Linked DNA regions of Homo sapiens: region 1 is linked to region 2. Evidence: fine-mapped expression QTL. A gene starts in region 2. The other region holds a variant in brackets. All regions are shown on one strand. Distances are between the middles of the regions.

Region 1 (15,190 bases), 380 kb before region 2:
TGCACGGACGAGGCCAAACACACCCCTCAAGAATGCAAGTGAGTGCCCAAGACCCTGCCGTCCACGGAGCTCAGGACCCCTCCCAAAGACTTTAGAGCCTCTAGATCTCACCAAGGCCCAAAGATATAGTCCCAGAATTGTCCCAAGAACTGCAGAGGCCCTCAGATCTCACCAAGTCTTCGGCGGCCCCCCGATACCTCCCCCAAATCCCTCTCCGCATTCCCCAAGTGACCTACATTCCACTCCAGACCCATTAGCAATCACCATTCCCACCCTGAGCCCCCAGCTTCCATCTTGAGACTCCTGTAGAGGGTAGTAGCTAAAAGCCTGGGCTGTGAAGTCAGACATTACGGTTCAAATCCACTTCATGAGACTTAGGTACATTTCTTAAACTTACTCAGTTCCATTTCACTCAACTGAAAAACGGGGCTAAACAGTGCCTATCTCACAAGGCTGTTGTGAAGAGTAAATGAGCTACTACATGGAAAATGTACTTTGTACAATGTAAAGTTGCTACACAGAAAACCTAGCTTGGGCCGGGCGCTGTGGCTCACGCCTGTAATCCCAGCACTTTGGGAGGCCAAGGCAGGCAGATCACCTGAGGTTGGGAGTTCGACACCAGCCTAGTCAGCATGGTGAAACCCCGTCTCCACTAAAAATACAAAAATTAGCTGGGCTTGGTGTTGTGCACCTGTAATCCCAGCTACTCGGGAAGATGAGGAGGGAGAATCGCTTGAACCCGGGAGGCGGAGGTTGCAGTGAGCCAAGATCATGCCACTGCACTCCAGCCTGGGCAGAGTCTTTTTCAAGACTCCGTCTCAAAAAAAAAGAGAGAATAGAAAAGAAGAGAAGAAAAAGAAAATCTAGTTCAGTGCCTGGCATATAGTTACTGCTAATAAACGTTGGCTATTATTCGTTTTACTTTTTCCTGGTGGGCGATGATGAGGATGATAATGGTGATGATGAAATGATGCCAACTATGTGCCAGACACTAGTCTCATTTATTGACTTGTGACATTTATTAATCCTTGTGACAAGCCAGGAAATCGATTCTGTTATTATCCTTATTTCTTAGAATGGGGAAACAGAAGCACAGAAAGGGTAAATGCGCAAGGTCACCCAGCCAGGACATGGAGGGACAGGATTTGAACCTAGAACATATTGCTCCACCACTATGTCCTGCTGCCTCCATGCTGGAGACCCCAGACCCTTTCCCCAGTTCCTCACCCCTCCTCACCCATCTAACCTGTTTGCACATCCACAGGGGCTCCTTCCTGGTATACCCAGATGGAGACGTGTCACGGCCCCTGGTCCGGGAGCGGCTCTGGGTCAACAGTGATTTCAACTTTGACAATGTCCTTTCAGCCATGATGGCCCTGTTCACTGTCTCCACCTTTGAAGGCTGGCCTGCGTGAGGGACAGGGCCCTGGGTTTATCAGGGGATGAGGCAGGGGTCTCTGCAGGATTGGGTTGGGATCTCCTGGGAATGGGTGGGAGTGTACCTTGGGGATGTGACGAAGGTCTCTCGAGACTGGATAGGGTTTTCTGGAGAGTGGTGGGTGTATCAGAGGACTGTAGAGGTGGAGTTCCCAGAAGCTGGGTGGGGGTTCTTTGGGGACTTGAGTGAGGGGTCTCCAGGAATTGGACAGCGGTTTCTAAGGGACTAGGTAGCTAGATAGAAGCCTGGAAAGGATTGGAGATGGTTTGGGGGGACAGAGTGGAGGTCTGAGGGGACTGGGATTGGTCTCTGAAGAGATGAAGCAGGGATTCAGCGATTTCTAGAAAGCTGTGCAGGTCTTTGGGATACTCATTGTGGGGCTCTGTGGGGAGATGGAGTGGGGATTCAAGTTGATGGGACAGGGATAAATTTACAGATCGTTGGGGGCTTGTGTGGAAGTTCTGGGGAGGCGCATGGGGGTCTCCAAGTGGTTGGAGAAGGGGATTTGAAGGTCTGTGGAAACTTAGGGGATTTCTGGGTCTTTGAGGTTCTGAATGGAGATTCTCTGGAGGACTCTATGGGGGTTTCTGAGGGCATGGGACAGAGGATTTGGACTCTTTGAGGGCCTGGTAGAGGTCTCTTAGAGTATGTATGGAGGTCCCAGGTGGTTAGGTCAGGAGATTTAGGGGTCTTTGGGGTGCCAGGCAGGAAACTCTGGGGTGTCTGTGATAAGTAGACTGGGGGCAGGTCTGAGGGGGCTGGGATATCCCCTCACCTGCCCCCACCTCTACCCCCCCTCTGGCTCCCACAGACTGCTATACAAGGCCATCGATGCATATGCAGAGGACCACGGCCCCATCTATAATTACCGTGTGGAGATCTCAGTGTTCTTCATTGTCTACATCATCATCATTGCGTTCTTCATGATGAACATCTTCGTGGGCTTCGTCATCATCACTTTCCGTGCCCAGGGCGAGCAGGAGTACCAAAACTGTGAGCTGGACAAGAACCAGGTGACCTCTGACCCCTGACCCCCTATGGATGGTCACCAACCCTTCCCTCCTTGCCTCAGGACCCCACTGCTCACTCATGCCCTGCCCTGGTATGCAGCGTCAATGTGTGGAATATGCCCTCAAGGCCCAGCCACTCCGCCGTTACATCCCCAAGAACCCGCATCAGTATCGTGTGTGGGCCACTGTGAACTCTGCTGCCTTTGAGTACCTGATGTTCCTGCTCATCCTGCTCAACACAGTTGCCCTAGCCATGCAGGTCTGAGATCCCTGCCTGACCCCCGCCAGACTCCTGACCCTATTATCTCCACATAATCCCTTGGGAACCATTGGGAACATTTAAGGCTGCAAATAACAAACCCCCTGCCAACTAACAGCAACTTAAGCTATAAAGACATTTGCCACATTTCTTTAAGTCTATGGCCAGTACTTGTAAGTTGCATTCTGATTTCGGAGATGTAAGAATGTGGAAAAAAAAAAAAAAGTAGCCAGTGGCCATTGTAAGTTGCCATTTGTTATAAAATGCGCCCCAATTTCAGAGATTCTAAAATGTAAAAAGATGTGCCTCCTGGAGTCAATGAACTGTGGTAATTACCTCATGTATTGAGAAGTGCAGAGGTAGGCTGTTTGTTCATTGTTCATCCGGGACCCATGCTCTATCTTTCTGCTTCACCATTCTTAGCAAGTTGGCATTCATTTTCATGATTGTTGTTTCATGATCACAGCTCCAGGCATCAAAACCACACTCAAGGCAGGGAGAGCTGCACCTGGGGCCTCTCCTTATTTGATCCTTTCATCGGAAAGCAAAATTTTTTTTACACAAGCTGCTAACCAACAGCAGATTTATGTTTATGTCTCACTAGTCAACCTGGCCTTGCCTAACTACAAGAAAAGCTAG[T/G]AATCAAGAACTAAACTTTCCAGTATCCATAATGGGAGGCAGACAGTGCAAGAGGTTTGACCAATACACAGTGCAATCAAGTCCCCAGACTCGTCTCAGCCCAGGCCAGGGAATATTTGGTTGGGTGTGGCGGCATCTCTGCCTCAGGCTCCATCTCAACCTGATTTTCTCCTGCAGCACTATGAGCAGACTGCTCCCTTCAACTATGCCATGGACATCCTCAACATGGTCTTCACTGGCCTCTTCACTATTGAGATGGTGCTCAAAATCATCGCCTTCAAGCCCAAGGTGGCCCCCCTTCTCTAGCCCCACCCACCAGTGGATGAATTCCTTGGGAGTGGAGCTCATTGCAGAGCTCTGGGGTTGGCGATGCGGGCAGCAGCCAGGGAGTGTGAGTCTAGGGAGTGAGAGGGACTCAGGTGCAGGCCCATCGTGTGATCCAAGCGAAGCCCTGCCCCCCTCCGGCGCCCCCTACTACTACTGGCCCCCTACCCTGGCTTGCGAGCTTTGAGAAGACAGGGCACTGCTTTTCTCCTACTTGCAGCATTACTTCACTGATGCCTGGAACACGTTTGACGCTCTTATTGTGGTGGGCAGCATAGTGGATATTGCCGTCACTGAAGTCAATGTGAGAACTGGCCTTTCCACTAATCCACTCTCGCCCTATACACCTTCCCTCACCTCTATCCCGGGGTTCCCTTTCACGTGGGTGGGTGGCTCCCACGCACATCCTCCCTACTCCTGGAGACTCAGTCCTCATTCTAGCTCTATCTCTTCTGAGTCCCTGTTGGGTTCAGCAAAAGTCCCCCTCTACTGGCTTTCTCATTCCATTTTGTAACCTATCTACTGGCTCCACCATCTCCTGAAATGCCTCTCCTGTTATTTCTGTTATCTCTTTCATTGCCTCTACATCCCCCATCCATTGGCTCCGTCATGTTCACTGGCTCCTGCTTTGGCTCCATCTTTTCTGATGACTTCATTGGCTTCATTTCTCCACCAACTTCATCATCTCTGACACTGGCTCTTTCATGGCTCTGTCATCACCATTGACTATATCATTGGCTCCATCACCTCCATTGGGTACTACATGGTTCTGTCACCTCAACTGACAACGCTGCTGGTTCCCTATCTCCATCACTGGCTTCTCCATTGGCTTCTCCATCGGTTCTCTCATCTCCATCATCTCTATGACACCACTGGTTCCATCATTTCCTCTATTGGCTCCAATGTCTCTGATCCATCACCTCCTTTACTCTCTCCTCTCCCTTCCATTCCCATTACCCACTTTTTCCTAATCCTAATCCACTACCATATAAACTTTCCCATTGTCCCCTGTGTAATGACCCCACCATCACCCCCTATATCTGCTCCATCATATCTCACCTTGTTCATTTGGGCCTATGATGTCATCATCTCCTGTATCACCTTTTTCTTGGCCATATCTCCCTCCAGAATGGTGGCCACCTTGGCGAGGTAGCCCACCCTAATAACAGGGACTCTCTGCTTCTTTTCCCATGTCCCTCTGTCCCTCCATCCCTCCAGATTACCCTAGGGCCTGAGTGATTTGGGTACTGGGAGGGCCAAAGCATGAGATAGGGAGATAGCTGGAGTAAATGCAAACTGAGCATCCCTACTGCACCCCTCACCCCAGAGCTCTGAGGACAGCTCCCGCATTTCCATTACCTTCTTTCGCCTCTTCCGAGTTATGCGGCTGGTCAAGCTTCTCAGTAAGGGTGAAGGGATCCGCACATTGCTCTGGACATTCATCAAGTCCTTCCAGGTAATCCCCTACCCCATCCCTTTGACCATACCTCGCCCCCATTTCACACTTCTCAGCCTGCCCCTTTACCACCCTCAGAACTACATCTCCCAACATGCCATACCCATTTCCAAATTATTATTCCAATTTTCTCTTTTTTCTGGGCTCTCAGTTTCCAACACACCTCTGGTCTCACTGACCTTACTCTATCTACTTAACACTATGTTCACATTTGAGAGACACCACAGTCCTTGGCACTTTGGAGATGGACTGCATCTCCCAGTAGGCCCAGGCCAGGGAAAGCAGTGCATTCTGGGGCTTATAGTTCTTTGCCTGAGCCTGTGCATCTATTCTCTGCCCCCCTCCCCCATCCCTATAGGCCTTGCCCTATGTGGCTCTTCTCATCGCAATGATATTCTTCATCTATGCCGTCATTGGCATGCAGGCAAGTGGGGACCCTAGGAAGCATCCCTTAAGCACTCCTCTGCTGGCAGGGGATGGGTTAAGAATAGCCCCAAAGTAGGGGTGGCAGGTAGACAGACAAGCTGGACGGCCCTGGGTCAATCTACACATCTGTGAAATGAGATCAGCAGTGATGCCCTGTTTGTCAGGGTTATGAGGCTCCTTTAGGTATTAGGAGGTGTGAAATGGGTGGGGCATGGGTTCACCCCACTGACACAGCCTTGATGTGTCCACAGATGTTCGGCAAGGTGGCTCTTCAGGATGGCACACAGATAAACCGAAACAACAACTTCCAGACCTTTCCACAGGCTGTGCTGCTTCTGTTCAGGTGACATCTACTCACTCCCCTGCCACCTTATGCCCGTGGGTGCCCACCCACCCTCTCTGAGCCCCAGACTGCTTGAGCTATGGGAATAATATGGCAGCATGGGGCTCCATACAGCCCGAGATGTTTCCTGGCTATGATGTGAGGAGTCTGTTAGAGTATTCTAGCCTCAGCCATTTTCTTTCTGACTGTAAGACGCCTCCCCTTCTCAGGTCTCAGTGCCTCATCTGTAAGATGCAAACATGACTGTCGTCAACATGGCCACACTGGCTGTTAAAATATTGAAATGTTATCTGTGCCAGATGTAGCCCCTGGTGAGAAGTAGGTCATCTCCTCATTCCCCAGTCCTCCCCCAACTCCATTTACCATGACTTCATAGCCTCCCCTTCAGGATGCTACCCCTGTGTGACTCCCACCAGGTGTGCCACTGGTGAGGCATGGCAGGAGATAATGCTTGCCAGCCTTCCCGGAAATCGGTGTGATCCTGAGTCTGACTTCGGCCCTGGTGAAGAGTTTACCTGTGGTAGCAATTTTGCCATCGCCTATTTCATCAGCTTCTTCATGCTCTGTGCCTTCCTGGTGAGAACCATTTCCTCACAACCACCACCACCGTCACGGGGGCTGGCCCTGAGGGGCTCAGGGATGTGACGTGGGCAGCCCAGATCTTCATAGTGGGTGAGAGGGCTGGTCTGATGACAAGATCAACCCAGAGACTCATGACCATATAAGCCCGCCCCAGCCTCCCACCATCCGTCCATGACAGTGTTCTGCCCTTCACCTAACTGCTCCCTTGCTCACTGGCCCACAGATCATAAATCTCTTTGTGGCTGTGATCATGGACAACTTTGATTATCTCACCAGAGATTGGTCCATCCTGGGCCCCCATCACCTTGATGAATTCAAGAGGATCTGGTCTGAATATGACCCTGGGGCCAAGTATGCCCTCTATACCCTTACCTAGAATCCAGGGGACAATGTATTGCCCTACACAGTCCCCTAGCCCCCAAACCTCCGACTGCTGCATCTCATTACCCAGTCAATAGATGCCCCAAAGTTTCCACTGCCCCATCCTCTGCCCTCTCTGACTGCCCTCCAGTTCTTCCCTGGCAAGCTCTGGGGTATTGGTAGGAGGAGGTAGTGATGAGCTGGTGGGGCCTTGAGAAAGGGCTAGTGGGGGCATCGCCAATCCAGTGGTACCTCCCCAACTCCTCCAGGGGCCGCATCAAACACTTGGATGTGGTTGCCCTGCTGAGACGTATCCAGCCCCCTCTGGGATTTGGGAAGCTGTGCCCACACCGAGTGGCCTGCAAGGTCTGTGCACCTGCCCACCCCCAGGCTCCTGAGAGAACTGTCTATCACATGGCAAGGGTGGGAAGGGATCTGCCTTGGGTGGGGAGGGGTGTTTGATCGCATCCTCAGAGGTTTCTGCCCCTTGACATTCGTTCCTGCATACCCGGCATTTTCCCAGAGTGGGTTTCATGTCTCTCGTGTTTGCAGAGACTTGTGGCAATGAACATGCCCCTCAACTCAGATGGGACGGTGACATTCAACGCCACACTCTTTGCCCTGGTCCGGACATCCCTGAAGATCAAAACAGAAGGTGTAGGGGAGGGGCAGGAGTGGGATCGTTCCTGGGGAGGGTGCAAGGAGCAAACTCATTGAATCATGGGCCCCACTCCTAGCTCTGAACCCCAGAATGGGTGACAGGATTCTCCAGGCCTGTTTCCCCCCACCCCGTCCAATGGGGGCGGTGTGCATCTGCGGTAGCAGCTTGTGAAGTTCCCCCCACCCAACAGTGAGGGGGCAGCTGTGGAGGTTCTTCCTATTGGCTCATGCCCCACATCCTCCTCCAACGCAGGGAACCTGGAGCAAGCCAACCAGGAGCTGCGGATTGTCATCAAAAAGATCTGGAAGCGGATGAAACAGAAGCTGCTAGATGAGGTCATCCCCCCACCAGACGGTGAGCTATCCCCGCCCCAGTTCCCCGCGCCAGCCCCTGAATGGCAGATGATCGCTCTCCACCACAAAACCAGCGCTGGGCAGAGGGCGAGGGGAAGTCCATGCTGGTGGGTAGAGAGGCGGCGAGGTGGGCTGGGTCAGAGGGCCCCTGTGTGATCTTGCCTTCTCTCCCTTGCCCCTAGAGGAGGAGGTCACCGTGGGCAAATTCTACGCCACATTTCTGATCCAGGACTATTTCCGCAAATTCCGGCGGAGGAAAGAAAAAGGGCTACTAGGCAACGACGCCGCCCCTAGCACCTCTTCCGCCCTTCAGGTCTTCGGGGCAGGGCCTAGTGTGGATGGGCACGTGTGGCAGTGCTGTGGCTGAGGCTGACCCCCATTTTGATCTTGTGAAACCCATGTCACAGATAAGGAAACTGAGGCCCCAGGCCTCACGGAGGGCCAGGGTGGCTGAAGGACTCCTTCCCCCACCCTACCCGCCTGCAGGGGAAACAGAGGGAAAGTTCAGACCCTGAGCTGCCTGCTTACCTATTTCTCCACCCCCACAGGCTGGTCTGCGGAGCCTGCAGGACTTGGGTCCTGAGATGCGGCAGGCCCTCACCTGTGACACAGAGGAGGAGGAAGAAGAGGGGCAGGAGGGAGTGGAGGAGGAAGATGAAAAGGACTTGGAAACTAACAAAGTGGGGACAAGTTTTCACTCTCCCAGGAACTTGATTGTAAAATACTTCGTCAATCCCCTGAGTGATTTTGACACTGCTTCTGGGAAGAAGCTCCCCCAGAGAAGCCCCCTCTGCAATAGAAAAATATTTATTTGAGGCTGGGAGTGGTGGCTCATGCCTATAATCCCAGCACTTTGGGAGTCCAGGGTGGAAGGATCGCTTGAACCCTAGGGTTCAAGACCAGTCCTGGCAAAATAGTGAAACCGCCTCTCTACAAAAAAATTTAAAAATTAGCTAGGAGTGGTGGTGCAAGCCTGTAGTCCCAGCTACTTGGGAGGCTGAGGCAGGAGGATTGCTTGAACCTGGGAGGATGAGGCCACAGTGAGCTGTGATCATGCCACTGCACTCCCGCCTGGTGACAGGACAAGACCCTATCGCAAATATTTATTTATTTATTTACGTATTTATTTATTTGACATTTACCATTGCTGTTGGAGGGCAAGGCCCACATTCATGGACCTGTGGGGGAGACATGTTATATGACCAAATGACTTAGCCACAAAGTGCATGCAACACTCAGTCCTGTGACTCTCCACAGGCCACGATGGTCTCCCAGCCCTCAGCTCGCCGGGGCTCCGGGATTTCTGTGTCTCTGCCTGTCGGGGACAGACTTCCAGATTCACTCTCCTTTGGGCCCAGTGATGATGACAGGGGGACTCCCACCTCCAGTCAGCCCAGTGTGCCCCAGGCTGGATCCAACACCCACAGGTATTATCAAGTGTCTGGAAGTAGATTGTGAGGGAAGGCAAGGACTAGACACTGGATAGAGGCAATTCAGGAGGCAGGAAGTTGAGGGGGGTGGGAGGGAGGGCCTAGAGGCCTTCAAGCAGAAATTTGGGAAGAATGGAGGTGTTTCAAGGGCTCAGGTAAGAATAGAGGGTGATAAGAGATTCATATGAGAAAGGCAATACAAAGGTTTAATGCAAAAAGCACATTGTGTGAAACCAAGAGTTTCAGTTCACATTCTGCCTCTGCCATTTGCTAAGTGACCTTGAGCTAATCACTTTTTTTTTTTTTTTTTTTTTGAGACAGAGTCCCGCTCTGTCTCCCAGGCTGGAGTGCAGTGGCACAATTTCGGCTCACTGCAACCTCTGCCTCCCGGGTTCAAGCGATTCTCCTGCCTGAGCCTCCCGAGTAGCTGGGATTACAGGCGTGCGCCATAATGCCAGGCTAATTTTTTTTTTTTTTTTCAGTAGAGACGAGGTTTTGCCATGTTGGCCAGGCTGGTTTCGAACTCCTGACCTCAGGTGATCTGCCCACCTCAGCCTCCCAAAGTGCTGGGATTACAAGCTTGAGCCACCGTGCCCTGCCTAGTCACTTCGTTTCTATGAGCCTCAGTTTCCTCACCTGTTTAAGGGGGATGACAAAGCACTTACTTCACAGGGATAAAGAAAGGATGAAATGAGGTAATGCATGTCAAACACTTAGCTGCTAGACAATACATAAGCAGATTAAAGAAAAATTTTAAAAAAAAATTTCAGAGTGTCTAGCTTGCCTAGGCACGGTGGCTCACACTCGTAATCCCAGCACTTTGGGAGGCCAAGGTGGGAGGATCGCTTGAGCCCAGGAGTACAAGACCAGCCTGCACAACATAATGAGACCCCGTCCATACAAAAAATAAAAAAATAGCCGAGCATGGTGGCACATGCCTGTAGTCCCAGCTACTTGGGAGGCTGAGGTGGGAGGATAAATTGAGCCTGGGAGGTTGAGGCTGCAGTGAGCTGAGATCATGCCGCTGCACTCCAGCCTAAGTGACAGAGTAAGACCTCGTCTCAGAAAATAAAAAATAGAAATAAAAAAATAAAGTGCCTAGCTTTTACAGGCTCCCCCCACTCCTAATACATGCCCAGTTTTGTGTTCAAGGTGTCTCTCTACAGGTCAACTTTGATTTTTTTGAAACTTTCAGTCCTAATTAGATGAACATCTATTAAACAAAAGCCCATGGTCACTTTAAAATGGTTAATGGTTAATTTTATGTGACTTGTCCTCAACAAAAAAATCCAAAAGCCCAGTGTTTCTGTAAGGGTTGGGGCATGGGATGAGAGGAACCAGGGGTCCAGGGCCACATATTGAGGGATCTGGTCTGCCTAACGTGCCTCCCTTTCCCCAGGAGAGGCTCTGGGGCTCTCATTTTCACCATCCCAGAAGAAGGAAATTCTCAGCCCAAGGGAACCAAAGGGCAAAACAAGCAAGATGAGGATGAGGAAGTCCCTGATCGGTACACTGGCCATGCCACATGGGATGAACCCATGAGCTGGGGTGGAGGAGGGGTGGGAACTGGGTCGGGGAGGACTGTTTGTGCCCCATCTCCCAGGCCCAGGTCCAGGCCCAGACCCAAGTTCACCCCTGGCCCTCCCACCCACACAGGCTTTCCTACCTAGATGAGCAGGCAGGGACTCCCCCGTGCTCAGTCCTTTTGCCACCTCACAGAGCTCAGAGATACATGGATGGGCACCTGGTACCACGCCGCCGTCTGCTGCCCCCCACACCTGCAGGTGAGAGCAGGGATGGATCCAAGGGGCCCCCACGGGCCTGCAGGACAGAGATCTGGGGAAGCACTGACATTGCTATTTGCCCCTGGTGCCCCACCCACCCCCAGGTCGGAAGCCCTCCTTCACCATCCAGTGTCTGCAGCGCCAGGGCAGTTGTGAGGATTTACCCATCCCAGGCACCTATCATCGTGGGCGAAATTCAGGGCCCAATAGGGCTCAGGTGAGGCTGTGGAGGTGGTGCTGGGGTCTGGGGTCTGGAGAGATGGGGGCAGCCTAGGCTGAATTTCTCAAACACAGCACATATCAGGCCCTTTTTTTTTTTTTTTTTTTTTTTTTTTGAGACAGAGTTTTGCTCTGCTGCCCAGGCTGGAGTACAGTGTTGAGATCTTGGCTCACTGTAACCCCTGCCTCCCGGGTCCAAGCAATTCTCCTGCCTCAGCCTCCCAAGTAGCTGGGATTACAGGTGCTCACCACCATGCCTGGCTAATTTTTGCATTTTTAGTAGAGATGGGGTTTCACCATGTTGGCCGGGCTGGTCTCAAACCCCTGACCTCAGGTGATCCGCCTGTCTCAGCCTCCCAAAGTGCTGGGATTACAGGCATAAGCCACCGCGCCTGGCCTCAGAGCCTTCTGAAGAACAGGACACATATGAATGAATGCACACAATGCTCACTGTACTTGTGAGGAAACTGAGGTCCTGAGAGGTTTACCCCAGATCATGCAGCTAGTAAGTGGCAGAGCTGACATTTAAACCCAGGCCTCCTGCACTCTTACATAAATAAACTCAAGCCTGACTTATACCCATTCAATTTCACTCCAGTTGTATACTGAGGGAAAGAAGTAGGCACAGCGGTGAGTCCTAGACCCTCATACCCTACTCATCCATCCCTGCCCCTCTGATGTTTATTCTGGCTCAGGGTTCCTGGGCAACACCACCTCAGCGGGGTCGGCTCCTGTATGCCCCGCTGTTGTTGGTGGAAGAGGGCGCAGCGGGGGAGGGGTACCTCGGCAGATCCAGTGGCCCACTGCGCACCTTCACCTGTCTGCACGTGCCTGGAACCCACTCGGACCCCAGCCATGGGAAGAGGGGCAGTGCCGACAGCTTGGTGGAGGCTGTGAGTCCAGAGGGCATATAGACAAGACGGATGGGGGAGAAGGGGAGGAGGTGGGTACTGGAGGAGGACGGAAAGGAGTCCCCAGGTCCTGTGTTGTGCATGTAGATATCCCTTTGCCCTACGACCTCTGCTCACCCCTGTCCCCCACTGACTTCCCTACATGCCCTCATGGGCACGTCATTTATCCACACTGAACCTTCTGTGCACACTGTGCCGTCCGTCAACACTGATCCCACCTGTGCCCCCAGGTGCTTATCTCAGAGGGTCTGGGCCTCTTTGCTCGAGACCCACGTTTCGTGGCCCTGGCCAAGCAGGAGATTGCAGATGCGTGTCGCCTGACGCTGGATGAGATGGACAATGCTGCCAGTGACCTGCTGGCACAGGGAACCAGCTCTCTCTATAGCGACGAGGAGTCCATCCTCTCCCGCTTCGATGAGGAGGACTTGGGAGACGAGATGGCCTGCGTCCACGCCCTCTGAATTCCCACCCCTCCCCAACTGCTCAATAAACCTCCTGCCCTCCCCTCCCCAGCAGGAGGCAGGCATGGACCACATCCCTGGATTTTGTTGTCTTTGCACTGGGGGTCTGGGGCTGCCCAGGGGCCCCCATCCATCCATCCCCTGTTCTAGCCCTGAGCCACTGCCCACACACGGGTATTTCCAGAAACCAGGACAGCCAGGCCTGATTATTCAGCGTCAGGGAAGGAGGGAGGAGGAGGAGGAGGAGGAAGAGACAGCAGCCAAAAAAAGCTGGAGGCAGAGTGGAGGAGGGGGGAGGGGGAGGGCACTGGACAGAGATGGAGGAAAGGGGAGAGAGCGGGTGTGAGGGGTGCTTGGACCCAGAGAGGAAGAGAGGCAGAGATTTCACCAGGGCTCAGCCAGGTCAAACTAGGAAGGGTAGACGGATGAGAAGGAAAGGACAAGGAAACCCAGAGAAGAATCCTGCCAGGGGAGAGGCCTGGAGGTTGGAATCGGCCTGGTATGTGATGCATCTTAGGCAGAGGGGTCCTCTGACGGCAACAGGAATTTTAGGGTGGCTAAATTGAGATCGCTCTGTCTCCCATCTCCCACTTTCTGCCTGAGAAAGAAAAGAAAACCTAAATCCATCAGTAGACAACATAGGTGACAGCAAAGGTCAGGGCTCCCAGCCCTGGGGAACCCACTCAGGGCCCACCTGGCTTTCCTGAGACCACCTAACAGTAACCTACTCTTATCCCACACAGATCCCAGAGGTCCTCTCTGCTTCTTGCCCCAGCTTTACTCTTCACCCAGCCTTTGGGGTTACATTCGCTCACTGAAGGCTTATCAGGCATTTACTATGTGCCAGGCACCGGCTCTGGGTTTCTCTCGGGGCAAACTGAACTGGTTGAAACACGGGACAGGTCTCATCCAAAGTGGGAGTCAGCCCCACTCCAGAGGAATTGAAGGTAGCATTGGGAGTGGTGCAGGATGAGACCACCAGTCGGGGAGGAACTCTTCCCAGCTCCCAGAACAGGGGTGTCTCATTTGTATAATCTGCGCCAATCAAGCCAGGACTGAAATTTGAGGGAAGCCAGAATTGGAGACTAGGACTGAGAAGATTGAGTTACATTAGGCCTTGAAACAAAGGCTTAAAGTGGTTGGGCTGGAGTTAGGTGAGAACAGCAAGTCATGGGCAGGGCACAGAGAGTGAAGGGAGACTGTTGAGGGATGAGGTGGGAGAAGCCACTGAGGCCAGATCAGGTGGAACCTTGAATGCCAGGTCCCAAACTCTGGGATTTTTCCTATAAGCAGTGGGGAGCCATGGGAGGGATTTGAGTAGGGTAGTGACATAGTTAACATTGCATTTTAAATAGATGTTCTGACGGCTGTGCTGAAAACAGAAGGGAGGGGGAAGAGACTGGAGATGCTAAAATTGGCAGGAATGATGGTCGCCTTAGCCAGAGGAGGTGGCAGAGGAGATGGTGAGAAGTGAGTGGATTCCAGAGATGTGTAGGAGGTAAAATGAACCATTTATTGGGCCCTGTGCTAACTGCATTACAGTGATCATCTCGTTGAATCAGTGCAACAACCTTATAGGTATCATTTTAAACCATCTTACCTGTCCAGGGTCAAACAAGAAGTATCAGAGGTGGCATTCAAATTCAAGCAGTTTGATGCCAAGATCCATGCTTTTAACCCCTCCTGTGTACTGCTTCCCCAATAAGGCAACAACAGGGAAGTATCCATTACATATATGTGTGAATTTTCATGTTTAAAAAAACAGGTATTGAGCTGGGCATGGTGACTCATGCCTGTCATCTCAGCACTTTGGGAGGCTGAGGCGGGAGGATCACTTGAGCCCAGGAGTTCAAGACCAGCCTGGGCAACAAAGTGAGACCTCGTCTCTACAAAAATATTTAAAAATTAGCTGGGCGTGGTGTCTCACGCCTGTGGTCCCAGCTACATAGGAGGCTGAGGCAGGAGGATCGCTTGAGCCCAGGAGGTCGAGGCTGCAGTGAGCCATATTCATGCCACTGGACTCCAGCCTGGGCAACACAGGGAAACCCTGTCTCAAAAAAAAGATATTCATTCAGATGGTTCAAAATTCAAAAGGTAGGCCAGATGCAGTGGCTCACACCTGTAATCCCAGCACTTTGGGAGGCCAAGTGGACAGTGGATCACTTAAGGTCAGGAGTTCACAACCAGCCTGGCCAACATGGCAAAACCCCATCTCTACTAAAAAAAAAAAAAAAAAAAAAAAAAATAGCCGGACGTGGTGGTTTGTGCTTGTAATCCCAGCTACTCAGGAGGCAGAGGTAGGAGAATCGTTTGAACCCAGGAGGCGGAGGTTGCAGTGAACTGAGATTGCACCACTGCACTCCAGCCTGGGCAACAGAGTGAGACTCTGTCTCAAAAACAAAACAAAACAAAACTACTGAGATGCTGTTTTTCATCTTTCAGGGTGGTGAGTATCAAAAAGTTTGATAATGTTCCATACTGGCAGGTTGGCCAGAAACAAGCGTTCTCATAAATCGCTTGTGGAAGTTTCATTG
Region 2 (15,218 bases):
ACTTAGCATAATGTCCTCGAGCTTCATTCATGTTGTCAGGTGTCAGAATGTCCTTCTTTTCAAGGCTGAATAACATTTTATTGTATGTATATATCGCATTTGCTTATCCATTCATTCATCAAGGAACATGAGTTGCTTCTACATTTTGGCCATTGTGAATAATGCTGCTCTGAACATGGGTGTATAAATATCTCTTTGTGTTCCTGCTTTCAATTCTTTTTGCTGTATACTCAGAAGTGAAATTCTACCTACTCCTAGGGTATATAAAAGTAAAAAAAAAAAAAAAAAGGGCTGTGTGTGGTGGCTCACTCCTGTAATCCCAGCACTTTGGGAGGCCAAGGCAGGTGGATTGCTCGAGCTTAGGAATTCGAGACCAGTCTGGGCAACATGGTGAAACCCCATCTCTACTAAAAATACAAAAATTAGCTGGGCATGGTGGCGTGAGCCTGTGGTCCCAGCTTCTTGGGAGGCTTAGTCACAAGAATCACTTGAACCCTGGAGGCGGAGGTTGTAGTGAGCAGAGATCACTGCCACTGCACTCCAGCCTGGGTGACACAGCCAGACATTATCTCAATAATAATAATAATAATAATAAAAGTTTTTAAAAAGTGGAATTCCTTTAGTTCGTATTAGTTTTCACTTTTATTTTTTGTGGAGATGGAGTCTCACCATGTTGCCCAGGCTGGTCTTGAACTGCTGGCCTCAAGCGATCCTCTGGCTTTAGCCTCCCAAAACGCTGAGATTACAGACATGAGCCACCGAGTCCCAACTAGTGTTTCTTTTTGAGTATGAACTGCCAACAACACAATTAAATCAGGAGAGCTGAGGGGGTCTCTAGCAAGTGTGCGCAGGGTGCGGCTGGTTTCCCAGCAGAGGTAAGCAACAAGGGGCTTTCATCGCCCAGGTCATTCAGGAGGGGCAGAGTGTTGCAGCAATGGCTAGTGATGTGTGAAGGGGAAGCAATAATGTTTCATAGGCTACGCCTTGGCTCCTGGATCTAATCGAAAACTAAAGTAAATAACAGGCCTCCAAAGAGTCCCAGGTAATTGAGGCAATAGTCCTGATACTTGTTTAGACATATCATCAACAAAAAGGGAAGCGGGCATCTAGAATCCTGGAAACACATCTTTTTGTAGACAGTTCTTATACCAGGATTTGTGCTTGATTGTGTCATAATTATGGTTCTTTTAAACACAAAAAGTCTATAATCATTAAAATACACTTATGAGAACATATTTTACTTTTGCAGAATTAGCATAGAAAGATAAGTTTTCTTTTTGATTTGTCAGTTTTTTAAAAATCTGTTTAATAAGCCAAAGAGCACTTATAAGAATTTTGAATTAATTCACATGTGAAGCATTCTAGATAAACCTAATTACTTCTCTTGCCCTTCCTTTTATAAGGTGAAGGAGAAATCTTTAGATTACCTAATAACCATTTAATTTAATTTAATTTAATTTGTTTTTGAGACAGTCTTGCTCTGTCTCCCAGGCTGGGGTGCAGTGGCGTAATTATGGCTCACTGCAGCCTTGACCTCTGGGGCCCAAACAATGCTCCCACCTTAGTCTCCCAGAGTGCTGAGATTACAGGCGTGAGCCACCATGCCCAGCCCTAATAATCATTTTAATAAGCCCCAAAATAGTTTATATAGAAAAGACATCTAACCAATTTTATTCTGAATTTGGGAAAATCAGAATTACAAAGAGTTGTTAGAGGAGTCAAAATATTTCATAAATACCTAAGCACAAGAAATATTTATAATTACTGCAGAATCATAAAGCAATAAACAACGTTTATTAGAAACTTTTTTCAAAAATAAGTACTTACTGGGCGTAGTGGCCCACGCCTGTAATCTTAGCACTTTAGGAGGCTGAGGCCAGCAGATAGATGACTTGAGCCCAGGAGTTGGAGACCAGCCTGGCCAACATGACGAAACCTCATCTCTACTAAAAGTACCAAAATTAGCTGGGCGTGGTGGCACGTGCCTGTAGTCCCAGCTACTGGGGAGGCTGGGGCAGGAGACTTTCTTGAACCCAGGAGGCGTAGGTTGCATTGAGCCCAGATCGCGCCACTGCACTCCAGCCCGGGTGACGGAGTGAGACCGTCTCAAAAAAAAAAAAAGGTAAAGAAGGACTCTTTTAAAAAATGGTTTAAGTGGCCGGGCGCGGTGGCTCACGCTTATGATCCCAGCACTTTGGGAGGCTGAGGCGGGCGGATCGCTTGAGGTCAGGAGTTGGAGACCAGCCTGGCCAACATAGCAAAACCCCATCTCTACTAAAAATACAGACATTAGCTGGTCATGGTGGCACACGCCTGTAATCCCAGCTACTCGGGAGGCTGAGGCAGGAGAATCGCTTGAACCCGGGAGGCAGAGTTTGCATTGAGCCGAGATCATGCCACTGCACTCCATACTGGGCAACAGAGTGAAACTCTGTCTCAAACAACAACAACAACAACAACAAAAAAAGATTTAAGAATATGTCGAAAAGCACAGAGAGATAGATTATTTTTGATGACAAAAGAAACCTCCACTGAACTAGGAAAACAATAATTTAGTTATTTCATAGTAAAAGGACACAAATTCTAATTTTACATCTTTTGTACATTATTCATGTAATAATTTCCAGTAGAGAATTTATTAATATAAGTATATGTATGTAGTTAGTTATACATGGAAATATAAATCTACAGATACAGGCCTGGCATGGTGACTCACACCTGTAATCCCAGCATTTTGGGAGGCTGAGGCAGGCAGATCACTTGAGGTCAGGAGTTTCAGACCAGCCTGGGCAACATGGCAAAAACCCCATCTCTACAAAAAATACAAAAATTAGCCAGATGTGGTGGCGTGCACCTGTAGTCCCAGCTGCTCGGGAGGCTGAGGCATGAAAATCACTTGAACACAAGGGGAGTAGGTTGCAGTGAGCTGAGATGGCACCACAGCACTCCAGCCTTGGTGACAAAGCGAGACTCTGTCTCGAAGTCAGTCAATCTACACATAGTCAATAAATTAAAAAATTTTCCACAGTTTCAAAATACAATTAACTTAGTATGATAAATAAAATTATGTATGTATTAATTATAATATTACCATTAATAAGCTGTAATAACTTTTTATTTTTATTTCTTAATTTTTGTAGTCTTTTGTCCTCGCCCCTATAACTTTTCAATAAACAAATAAAACTCATATCCATTTTCATGTATACATATTTGTATTTATCTGTAATTCTTTTTACCTAGGATAATCAACCATGCATATCAAATGTTTTTAATCTTTAATTCCTTTTTTTGAGACAGAGTCTTGCTCTGTCGCCCGGCTGGAGTGCAGTGGCGCGATCTCGGCTAACTACAACCTCCGCCTCCCGGGCTCAAGCGATTCTCCTGCTTCAGCCTCCCGAGTAGCTGGGATTACAGGCGCCTGCTGCCATGCCAGCTAATTTTTGTATTTTTAGTAGAGACGAGGTTTCACCATGTTGGCCAGGATAGTCTGGATCTCTTGACCTCGTGATCCACCTGCCTCAGCCTCCCAAAGTGGTGGGATTACAGGCGTGAGCCACCATGCCCGGCCCCTTAATCTTTAATTTTTATAAGTACATGGTGTGTATATTTATGGGATACATGAGATTTTTTTTTTTTGAGACGGAGTCTCTCCCTGTTGCTCAGGAGTGCAGTGGTGCGATCTCTGCTCACTGCAACCCATACCTCCCAGGTTCCAGCGATTCTCCTGAGTAGCTGAGATTACAGGCATGCACCACCACGCCCTGCTAATTTTTATATTTTTAGTAGAGATGGAGTTTCGCCATGTTGGCTAGGCTGGTCTCGAACTTCTGGCCTCAAGTAATCCGCCTGCCTCGGCCTCCCAAAGTGCTGGGATTACAGCACCACACCCGGCCTCACTTCATTCCTTTTTATGGCTGAATAATATTCAATGATATGGAGAAACCTCATTTTACTTATCTGTTCATCTATTGATGAACATTTGGGTTGTTTCCACTTTTTGCTATTATAAATAATGCTGCTTTGAACATTTGTGTACAAATTTTTGCATGGACTCTTATATACATTTAAAAATATGGCCAGGTGTGGTGGCTCATGCCTGTAATCCCAGCACTTTGGGAGGCCAAGGTGGGTGGATCACTTGAACCCAGGAGTTCAAGAGCAGCCTGGGCAACATGGTGAAACCCATCTCTACAGAAAAATGCAAAAATTAGCTGGGCATGGTGGGGAACACCTGTAGTCCCAGCAAGTCGGAAGGCTGAGGTGGGAGGATTGCTTGAGCCTGGGAAGTGGAGGTTGCAGTGAGCCGTGATTTCACCACTGCATTCCAGCCTGGGTGACAGAGTGAGACCCTGTCTCAAAACACAAATAAACAAACCAAAACAAATTTTATTACACATTTTATTACAGAAGGAGTAGGATTAAAAATAAAACAAAATAAAAAGTACATTTAATTGATTTTCTTTAAAATATTCAGCTGGGGTTTAAATTGAAATTACATAGAAATTATATATTAGTTTGGATAGACTTGACATCTTTATAAAATGAAATTGCCTCATCCAGGAACATGTATTGTGTCTTCATTTATTCAGATGATCTTTTTTTGTTTTTGAGACGGAGTCTTGCTCTGTCGCCCAGGCTGGAATGCAGTGGCACCATCTCAGCTCACTGCAACCTCTGCCTCTCAGGTTCAAGCAGTTCTCCTCCTCCTCAGCCTCCTGAGTAGCTGAGATTACAGGCGCGTGTCACCATGCCTGGCTAATTTTTGTATTTTCAGTAGAGATGGGGTTTCACCATGTTGGCCAGGCTGGTCTCAAACTCCTGACCTCAGGTGATACACCCACTTCGGCCTCCCAAAGTGCTGGGATTACGAGCATGAGCCACCGCGCCTGGCCTATTGTAATTTTTTTTTTTCAGACAACAGAAAAGTATAAAGGAGAAAGTAACAAACCATTAGTTACCTCCCCAGAGATAACCATTGATGACATTTCCTCCCCAACATTTTTCCCCCTATGGATACACATACATTTTTTCAAGATCTTGTTTCCTTTGATATGTCATTTTAGTGGCTTGAACTTATTTCTGGAACAATATATGGGTAAAGTCTATGCATATATGTATCTATGTATATATCTATCTATGGAAAACAAGTAGATATAGACAGTAAAATAAAGACAGAGACAAGACAGCGGTTGGAGAGATGAAAGGAGAGAAAGTCATAGACAAGGAGAGACATATGGGGAGAGGAAGACACAGAGAGAGCTGTGGGCACATAAGGGCAGAAAGATAAACACAGAGAGCCATGGAGAGATGAAAGTATTGGGCTGGGGCCAGGCATGGTGGCTCAACGCCTGTAATCCCAGCACTTTGGGAGGCCGAGGAGGGCCGATTGCTTGAGCTCAGAAGTTGGAGACCAACCTGGCAACATGACGAAACCCCATCTCTACAAAAATACAAAAATTAGCCAGGCGTGGTGGTGGGCACCTGTAGTCCCAGCTACTTGGCAGGCTGAGGCATGAGAATTGGTTGAACCCTGGAGGTGGAGATTGCAGTGAGCTGAGATCCGGCCACTGTCCTCCAGCCTGGAGGACACAGCGAGACACTGTCAGAAAAAAAAAAACACAAAGAGACAAGGAGAGGATGGAAAGGAGCATTTATGGAGCTCCTACTGAATGTCATTCTAAACCTCCAAGGTCACTTTGAGGGAGGCTGTCAGTAGTAACCCCTTTACGCCGCTGAGAGCCTGAGCCTTAGAATGGCCAACTGAGCTGTCCATGGTCACATCACCTAGATTGAACCCATCTCCCTGGCGCGGGCCGGGCCCACTGCGGGTGATCCATTAACTATTTATCTAATGAACAAACTAAAGTCCATCTCCTCCCCCAGGAAGAGAGATGAGGACCAGACCCCCATTCCACTCCACTGAGTCAATTTTTCTTGCCTGTTTTCCTGTCTACTAAGGTAACAGTAAGGTCGGTTGCCCCAGCAACTGCCCTCCGACTGCCATGGCAACCGCCAGCTCTCCACCTTGCCCTTTGGGCATCTCCATGGCGACGGGAGGTCTGGTGGGGCTGCCAGCTCCCCAGGCTGCGCCTGCGTCGGTCGGGTGGGTGGGGTGGGGGCGGGGGGGGGGGGGCCTGGTTCCGGGCGTGCGCAGCCGCAGAGCGCCGCAGCCTCGCCAGCTCGCCCCGGCACTGCGCACTTGCCAGCCAGTCCGCCCGTCCGGAGCCCGGCTCGCTGGGGCAGCATGGCGGGGTCGCCGCTGCTCTGGGGGCCGCGGGCCGGGGGCGTCGGCCTTTTGGTGCTGCTGCTGCTCGGCCTGTTTCGGCCGCCCCCCGCGCTCTGCGCGCGGCCGGTAAAGGTGCGACCCCAGTCCGGCGAGGGGTGGGGGTTGGGGGAGGATGCCACCGGCGAGGGTTGGGGTTGGGGCTGCGCCGCCTCACCCCCGCCCGAGCCGGCTCCCGGGACGTGCGGAGAGATCGACGAGGGTGGCCCGGGCTCCGGCCGCCGGTCCGCGCCCAGGCCACGCCGGCACACCTGAGACCTGACTTGGTCTCTGCCTGTGCGGGTGGCGTTGTCCGGGGCGCCGCCGGTAACCGTGCCCTGCCCACCTCTCCGTGCCCGGTGCCTGTGACGCTGTCCACGGCACTAAGGCGCTTTAAGAAAGGGCGCGCGCGCATCAGTGTGTGTGCGTGTGATGTGAGGAGAGCGGTGTGGAGGTGTCGTGTCCTTGAAAGTGTGTGTTCTTTGGTTTGAGCGCTTCCAAGTGTCCTAGAAAGGTGCCGTGGTGCGTCTGGGTGTGTAGTGTGTGTGATACCGGGATACTTCTGTGCGCGATTCTTTTGTGCGTCCGATTGTTTTCTCAGTGACACCGTGTGGATATTTGTGAATCCTTATTATGTGTGTTGGCTTGGCCTATGGGCGTGTCTCTCTCTCTCTCTCTCTGTCTCTCTCTCTCTGTGTGTGTGTGTGTGTGTGTGTGTGTGTGTGTGTGTGTGTGATTTCGTTTGTGTTTGAGAGGGAATGGTCTTCGCATCTCCGTGTGCACATTCCATAGTGGTTCTGTTGGACCAAGTGCCTGGGATTTCGTTTGCGTGTTCCTGAGACTGTTTCTCTCCGTTTCTTTGTGGAGCTGTGTCATCCTGAGGAGAGGAGCCATGATGTCTCTCTGCTGCATTGTGTCTTTAAGGATGGTGCATGTCCTTGCACCTGGGTGGCTTGGCGATTGTAACTGCAGGAGCAGCTGCGGATGTGAACGTGTGCAGGTCCTTGCATGTGGCTGTGGCAGTGTTGGGCTGTATATGTGACATCTCCAGGCCTGTCAGTCCTCATGAGTGTGTGTGAGGCTGTGATTGCTGGTGAGTGTGATACCCCGGGGTGACTGAGGAGTGGTGGGCGCCAGCAAGGGCACTTGGAGAGGCATCCTCCTCTAGCTCTTCAATACTGTCTGCATCAAAGATGGGAATTAAAAAAAACTGTTACCTTATATCCGTGTAACAATGTGTTTAATATATATGTACAATGTAAAGAATGATGACAAAATAACTCTCTCGTGTAGCAGTCACTCAGCTTAATAAATAGAGCCTGACCAAGAGTTAGAAGCCCCTGCGTGCCCCTCGCCATGGCAGCCCCTGTCCCCACACAGTCCTTATTCTGTATTTTCTGTCCATTGATCCCTTACTTTTGTTTGTAGCTTATCACATATGTGTAGCTCTCAAAAAAAATCCATTGTTTAGTTTTTCCTGCTTTTGAACATCATTGAAACGGAATCATACTGGGTGACTGGTTCCTCGTAGTCACTAGGGGTCACTAGGAAGTCCTCAGGGTGTCTAGTAGTCTCAGGCAGTCTGCAGTGAAATTCTGGAACTTGACGTTTTTTTTTCCCTTGGCTCTATTCTGGTCACGAGATTCATCCAAGTTGATGCATGTGGCTGTAATTCATTTATTTTTATTGCTGCATAATATTACATCCTATGAGGACATCATGATTTATATATGTATTCTCAATTTGTCAGTGGACATTGGACTGTTTCCAGGCTTTTCTTTCTCCCCCGCCCTTTTATGCTATTACGAACAGTGCTGCTGTCATCTTTCACGAACTTGTGACCAGTAGCGTATGTGCCAAAGCTGCTCTGGGGAGTGACATCCCAGGAGTGGGTCATAGGATATGTGCATCTTTTTAGATATTGTCAAACCGCTCTGCAAAATTACTTTGCCAGTTTAATTCTCACCAGCATAGTATGAGAGTTCCCATTTTTCTGCATTCATATCAACACTTCATATTATCAGACTTTTTGATTTGGGTCAATCTTTTGGTTATATTATGCATAGTATCTCCCTGGCATTTTAATTTGCTTTCCCCTGATTACTAATGAGGTTTTTAATTTTATTTTATGTTTGTTAGAGACAGGGTCTTCCTCTGTCATGCACGCTGGAGTGCAGTGGTGCGATCTGGGCTCACTGCAACCTTGAGCTTCTGGACTCAGGTGATCCTCCCACCTCATCTTCCCAAGTAGCTGGGACTATGGGCTTGTGCCCCGCTCATTTTTTTTGGTTTTATTTTTTGTAGAGACAGGGTCTCGCCATTTTGACCAGGCTGGTCTCAAACTCCTGGCCTCAAGCGATCTTCCTGCCTTGGCCTCCCAAAGTGCTGGGATTACAGGCATGAACCACTACACGTGGCCCAATTTTTCATATGTTTAGTAATCATTTTTGTGAAATAGGCGATCATGTATTTTTTCTATTTCTGTATGAGTTTGTTTTTCTCTTACTACTTTTTAGGAATTCTCTGTATCTTCTGTGTACTACTCTTTCATTGACTATTTGTGTTGCAGGCATCACTCCTTTTAAACATATTTATATGTGGCCTGTATGTTTCTTTTCCAAACCTTCACAGTCATTTTTATGATCTTTTATTCCTTGCTCAGATTATTGGTACCCTCTTTTATTTCTTTAAACTTGTGGAAATTGTTTGAAAACTGCTTGAACTGAAAATTTGTCATTGGGTAATTTATTCTACAGATGAACTTGTACACATGCCAAATGATATATGAACAAGTTTATTCATATAGTTCCTATTGTCCACAATATTAAATATGGAAAAATCTATAACTGTCATATCTACCATCACTACTCTTATGAAGAAACTCGGTCTCCAGGAGTGGGGGTGGGGAGGGAGGAATTATGAGAGTCACCAAGGGATCACTGGCGCGCTGTGGGGTGGGGGTGGGGGGTGTCTGGGGATCTTTGGTGGTCTTAAGTGCGTCTGGAGATATTTGGTGGTTTCCAGTGGCCTTAGGGGTGTCCGGGTATATTTGGATGGTCACGGTGCTTTTGGTGGCATCTGGGATGTTTGAGGCCTACGAAGCTTCCCGGGCTGGGGGTCCCTGTCTCGACGGACGCTGACAAACTCTTTTCCCCCACCTCATTTTCCCGCAGGAGCCCCGCGGCCTAAGCGCAGCGTCTCCGCCCTTGGCTGAGACTGGCGCTCCTCGCCGCTTCCGGCGGTCAGTGCCCCGAGGTGAGGCGGCGGGGGCGGTGCAGGAGCTGGCGCGGGCGCTGGCGCATCTGCTGGAGGCCGAACGTCAGGAGCGGGCGCGGGCCGAGGCGCAGGAGGCTGAGGATCAGCAGGCGCGCGTCCTGGCGCAGCTGCTGCGCGTCTGGGGCGCCCCCCGCAACTCTGATCCGGCTCTGGGCCTGGACGACGACCCCGACGCGCCTGCAGCGCAGCTCGCTCGCGCTCTGCTCCGCGCCCGCCTTGACCCTGCCGCCCTAGCAGCCCAGCTTGTCCCCGCGCCCGTCCCCGCCGCGGCGCTCCGACCCCGGCCCCCGGTCTACGACGACGGCCCCGCGGGCCCGGATGCTGAGGAGGCAGGCGACGAGACACCCGACGTGGACCCCGAGCTGTTGAGGTGCCCGGCAGGGGGTGGGGAGGGGTCGGGCGCCTGCGTCCGGAGAGGACGAGGGCGAGGAACTGGGAAGCCTGCTTACCCCGTGGAGTGCGAACCCCTAAGTCCTGGGGCCTAAGAGGGAGTGAGGTCCTGGATCCAGGGAGTCCAGGCAAGGATGCCTGGCTGACTCAGTGGGGGAAGTGGACCCCAGGTCCTGGGAAGGGGAGAGGGAGGCGGGGAAGCCACAGTTTTCTGGGATGAAAGGCGATGACGGCTGTCTACTGAAAGCAGTGGGCTGAGGACGCCTTCTTGGGGAGGGAACCGTGTCCCCAGGCAGTATGTGGTTGTGGATCCTGCGTTCTGGGCCCCGAGCGTGGGGCGGGGGAACGCCCCACCGCGGACACCGCCTCACTGCTTTGCGCTCGGCCCTGCAGGTACTTGCTGGGACGGATTCTTGCGGGAAGCGCGGACTCCGAGGGGGTGGCAGCCCCGCGCCGCCTCCGCCGTGCCGCCGACCACGATGTGGGCTCTGAGCTGCCCCCTGAGGGCGTGCTGGGGGCGCTGCTGCGTGTGAAACGCCTAGAGACCCCGGCGCCCCAGGTGCCTGCACGCCGCCTCTTGCCACCCTGAGCACTGCCCGGATCCCGTGCACCCTGGGACCCAGAAGTGCCCCCGCCATCCCGCCACCAGGACTGCTCCCCGCCAGCACGTCCAGAGCAACTTACCCCGGCCAGCCAGCCCTCTCACCCGAGGATCCCTACCCCCTGGCCCCACAATAAACATGATCTGAAGCAGCTCTGTGCTTGTCTGTGTGAGTGGCAGTTTCTAGGGGCTGGTGGTTCCCCGCGGTGGTGGTTGCCCTTAGACCAGGAGAGAGGAGACTCTACCCTGGGTCCTGCACTTTAGAGCAATCACCTGCTCAGTCTATGTCTCTCCTAGGGGTGGAGGGGAAGACATCCACATGGACAATCGCGGATCTTGTGTCCCCCTTTTAGGCCTCACTTGGGTATGGGGATCCCAGGCTTTGAGGCCACTTTCAGGGCCTGCACCATCATCTTCCAAGGGACCATCCTCCTGAGGGCCAAGGGGTGGCTTTGTGGGGCACGTGAGTAGAGCTTGAGGTGCTGGCTGGGATGTCGCAGGCACACATGAACACCTCCTGATGTGGGGAAGAGAAAAGGAGAGAGCGGAGAGAAAGGGAGAGGGCACTGAGGGTCGGGAGGCCCCAGTACAGGCACACTCTTTGGCAGACAGGCACATTCTGGCAGGGAACTCTGAGAAGGCTGAGAAATTGGAGCCTGGGTATCCAGGTCACTAATAAAGTGTATTTGCCAAAGTAGGATAGGGTGTATTTCATTTACTTTGTAAAGCTTGATTCGTAATGTCTGAACGTTTACATATTTAGTTATGTAGTGTAGAGGCCTACCTGTACTCTTGCTCCAGGCCCTGGATATACTGAGGGTTGCTGTGGTGGCAGCTGATTTGTGGCCATGGTCTTTGCACTGGCTAGTCCCTCTGCCTCTGGATATCTTCAGGTTTTTGTCCAGATGTCACCTACTCTCAAGAAGGCTTTCCTGGACCTGTCACCCTATTCCTTCACCTGCCTTTAACACGTAGCCTTTATCACTATCTAGCCTGATGCCATATCTATAAGGGCAAGGATTTTTAAGTGTCTTGTTTGCCTCTACCTCCCTTATATATAAAGCGGAGCCTAGCACACAGTGGGCTCCCCCTGAATTTCTTGAATGAAAGAATTCTCACAACTCAAGTAACATTCTACCCAGTCTCACTCCCACCCACACAACACTCGGCATGGAGGCAGCTTTGAAACCCAAAACACCATTTATTTAATTTTGCACAAAATCTTTCAACTTGACATAACAAAAGCAACATTAGGCACTCCCATGTTACCAAAAAGCCCCTCACCAAGTGAAAACAAGAGAGATGTCCATCTTTCCCTAGTATACCTGATGTGTCCCTCAAAGCTAGTTGCCTCAGGGGTCTCATGTCAAATGAACAATCACCCTGGCCTGGGGAAAGGTCTACATTTCTTGGCCAAGACCTTCAGGCCACAGAGCAGCCACAGTGGCAGGTGGCCTTCTGGTGCCGGGTCTTCTCCCTACAGGACCTTGCCATGGGCTCCTTCGCCATGGCCTCCTGGACCCTCTGGATCTCATGGACCAGCAGGGAAAAGGCCTCCTCCACGCCTTGCCGTGTTTTGGCCGAGGTCTCCACGAAGTGGGCCCCCCAGCTGTGTGCGAGGGCTGCAGCAGCGGCATGAGCATCTCCAGCAGTGGTCACAAGGTCACACTTGTTGCCCACGAGGACAAGGGGCTGGGCGGGGTGAGGGCCCCAGGTGGCCCATATCTGCTGCAGCTGGATCAGAGACGAGGGGTCATCGAGAGCGAAGACGCCCAGCACACCATCACAGACAGCCAGGCACTGGTCACGCAGGGCCCTATGGATGGCCTGCCCTGCTGTGTCCAGCACATTCAGAATGCAGTCCCCACTGTCCAGGGTCAACTCCTTCCAGTAGGAATCCTGGATGGTGGGGTCGTGGTCCTCCACGAAGCACTGGTGGTTCAGCTGGATGGTCAGCGCACTCTTGCCCACGCCACTGGCGCCCACCACCACAGCCTTGTACTCAGGCAGCTGCCTGCCAACATCCCTGCGGCGTGCCTGAGCCCGGTGGGTTTCCCCCTGGAAGGAAGGGCTCCATGTGGCCAGGCCCAGGTCGAAGGTGCCAGGCTTTGTTGGCAGCTCCATGACCCCAGCAGGCAGCTCAGGGAAGAGACGTGGGCAGCAGGCTCTGCAAGTGGGAAGAGAAGAAGCAAGACAACAGGGGATACGTTAGGGGAGACCATTTGAGGGCAAGGAGACAGTGGGGTGTCATTATTTCAACATTTATTGAATGCCTATTGTGTGCTGATCACCTTCCAATTTGCATGCTATATATATATGATTTATGTTGTTTTCTCCCTGTCCCACGTCCCCCCATCTCTCCTTCCCTCCTCACGCGAATCAACAACTGTGAAGGCTGGATTTCCCAAACAGCTTTATTGAGATGTAATTTACATCCCATCAAGTTCAGCCAGCTAGTGTCCAATTTAACGGGTTTTAGCATATTCACGAAGTTGTGCAACTATCACCATAAGTAAATTTTAGAACATTTTCCTCACCCAGAAAAGAATCCCCATGCCCATTAGCAGTTCCTCCCCATGACAGAGGGAGGGCAGGATTTTGCCGGTTTTGGTCACCATTGAACCCTAGCCCAGCACAGTGCCTGCCAGACAGTAGGGACCCAACATTCCCACCCCCAGAAGGTTTATGTTCTAAAAGGCAGAGGCAGATAATATAATAAACCAAATAAATATGTAAATCACGTGGTCTGTTAGCCATTATCATTAGAATGTAGTCTTTATTAATTATTCAACATACATTTATTGGGAACCTACTGTGTGGCAAGGACATGGAGTTGGGCAATAAATAGACAACAAACTGTAGCCCTCATGAAGGTTATATTCTGGTCGGGGTGAGAGACAACAAACTAGGTTAAAAAGGGGGCGGGGCACAATGGCTCACGCCTGTAATCCCAGCACTTTGGAGGCCGAGTCGGGTGGATCACCTGAGGTCAGGAGTTCGAGACCAGCCTGCCCAACATTGCGAAACCCTGTCTCTAATAAAAACACAAAAAAATTAGCCAGGAGTGGTGGTGGACGCCTGTAATCCCAGCTACTCGGGAGGCTGAGGCAGAAGAATCGCTTGAACCCGGGAGGCGGAGGTTGCAGTGAGCTGAGATCACACCACTTGCACTCCAGCCTGGGAGATAAGAGCAAAACTCCGTCTCAAAAAAAAAAAAAAAAAAAAAGTGAACTATATGTCAGTAGCGGGTGATAAGCATGCAGAAGGTGCTCAGTTCATGCCAGGCTTTTAAATTATAATTTAATCTCCATTCATTAATTCAAGAATCTTCCTTCGTGCCAGGCATTGTGATATGGCAGTTAACAAAACAGACCCCAGTCCCTGCCCTTGTGAGGATTGGATTCTGGCAGAGAGAAAGAGACAGTAACAAGATAAGGAACAAGGAAGTTGCATGTTCGAAGAGGATGGGCACACGGCAGGTGGTCAATTAGTGTTAGTTATTAGCAGCACATCCCCATTCACTCAGTGAATGCCCCTCGGTGTCCTTGGGCTCAGGAAGTGCCCTGCTTAGTGCATCCTAATGGCTGTTGCCACGACTCCCCTCCGAAAGCCTGGCGCAGCGGCAGTTTGGGGGCGGATGGTGGCTTCGAGGTTTGGTGGAGCTGGAGATCCGGAGGTCGGAGTCGGGGCAAGGTCCCAAATGGGGATGCGGCCGCGGCGTCCTCAGCTCTGAGGGATCCCTGGGAATAGTCACTGGCGGCGTTGGCCCAGAAGGAGCGGGGGCGGGATAAAGAGAGCAGGAAGCGGAGGACGGAGCTTGGGGGTCCCCGACGGTTGGGGACAGGAAGAAGACCTGGAGGACTGCGGGGAGGGGCGAGGCGGCGGCGCACGTGGAGGGAGAGGTCGGCTTCTGGGGGTCCTGTAGGGGTGCCCGGCCATCTTTAGGGATGGGTCAGAAGGCAGAGGCGGGGTCGAGGCTGCCTCTTAAGTCGGGGTCTGAGCGGCTGGAGTCTGGGGGCGCCGACGGTGAGGAAGGAAAAGCCCGGGGCCTGGCCGAGTGGCGGAGCGCAGCTTCCACCCCAGGTGCCTGGCGGGACGGGGCCACACTCGCCCAGTCCCCGCGACGCGCAGGGAGGCCGCGGCCCTGGTCCCCAAGGCTCCGCTCCCGGGAGGAGCCCGAGGCGCAGAGGCACGTGCCGAGGGCACTGGCCCGGGGCCTCAGCCCGCGGGAGGCGCCGGAGATTGGGGGCTCGGTCCTCTCAAGTGGCGCGGAGCCCCCGGCGGGTCCCCGTGGCCGCGCGCTCAGAGCCGCTGGGACCAGGTTGGGGGGCTTCGCCCAGCTCACCAAGGCTGGCGCGCTAAGGGGCCGGGACCTGGGGTTAGGGCGGCCTCGCCAGGTCGTGCTTTCCCGGACGAGGCCGGGTGAGGTGCAAAGCTCGGAGTGCGGAAGGGTCCCCGAAACCAGGACTCCACTTCGGGCTCGGTGTGAGCAGCGTCGCCCGGGCATCCTGTCAAGACCCATCCCGACTCCGGGTGAGGCGGCCCCGCTTCCAGCCAAGCGCCGACACCCCTCCCGGCCGGCCGAGTGAGGGGCCGCTCGCCCGGGAGAAGGCTTGGCGCTTGGGGGACGATCCCCCAAAGCCGGCGCGGGGATACCCCCAGGCCTGGCAGGGCCAGGGGCACCGGCGC

Alleles and levels. Positions count from the first base shown, and alleles are read on the strand shown. Sizes are in standard deviations (SD) of each study's normalised expression.
For the expression in breast of the gene that starts at base 6,167 in region 2, allele G in region 1 goes with a higher level than allele T (moderate effect, 0.67 SD a copy in GTEx).

The links. PIP is the estimated chance that this variant, and not a neighbour inherited with it, causes the effect.
Region 1: its variant is the best candidate, but not a certain one, in a credible set for the expression of PCSK1N in breast (GTEx, PIP 0.54).

Annotation. Positions count from the first base shown.
Region 1 is chrX:49,202,603-49,217,792 of GRCh38, reverse strand. It overlaps CACNA1F (calcium voltage-gated channel subunit alpha1 F), which reads left to right. Exons shown (of 48, transcript NM_001256789.3): 26 at 1-38; 27 at 1,265-1,411; 28 at 2,250-2,451; 29 at 2,549-2,707; 30 at 3,524-3,634; 31 at 3,891-3,974; 32 at 4,799-4,819; 33 at 4,998-5,126; 34 at 5,485-5,550; 35 at 5,804-5,895; 36 at 6,312-6,471; 37 at 6,701-6,828; 38 at 7,107-7,203; 39 at 7,390-7,492; 9 more. The coding sequence ends at 12,656. Among named protein-coding and RNA genes, the nearest start is that of SYP, 10 kb to the right of the region's middle. RefSeq lists an enhancer at 7,322-8,521. The variant T/G (reference allele first, on the strand shown) is at 3,347.
Region 2 is chrX:48,826,559-48,841,776 of GRCh38, reverse strand. PCSK1N (proprotein convertase subtilisin/kexin type 1 inhibitor) reads left to right here and starts at 6,167. Exons shown (of 3, transcript NM_013271.5): 1 at 6,167-6,358; 2 at 9,436-9,908; 3 at 10,322-10,681. The coding sequence starts at 6,245. The coding sequence ends at 10,517. It overlaps ERAS (ES cell expressed Ras), which reads right to left. Exons shown (of 2, transcript NM_181532.3): 2 at 11,908-12,696. The coding sequence starts at 12,653. The coding sequence ends at 11,952. RefSeq lists an enhancer at 10,345-10,845.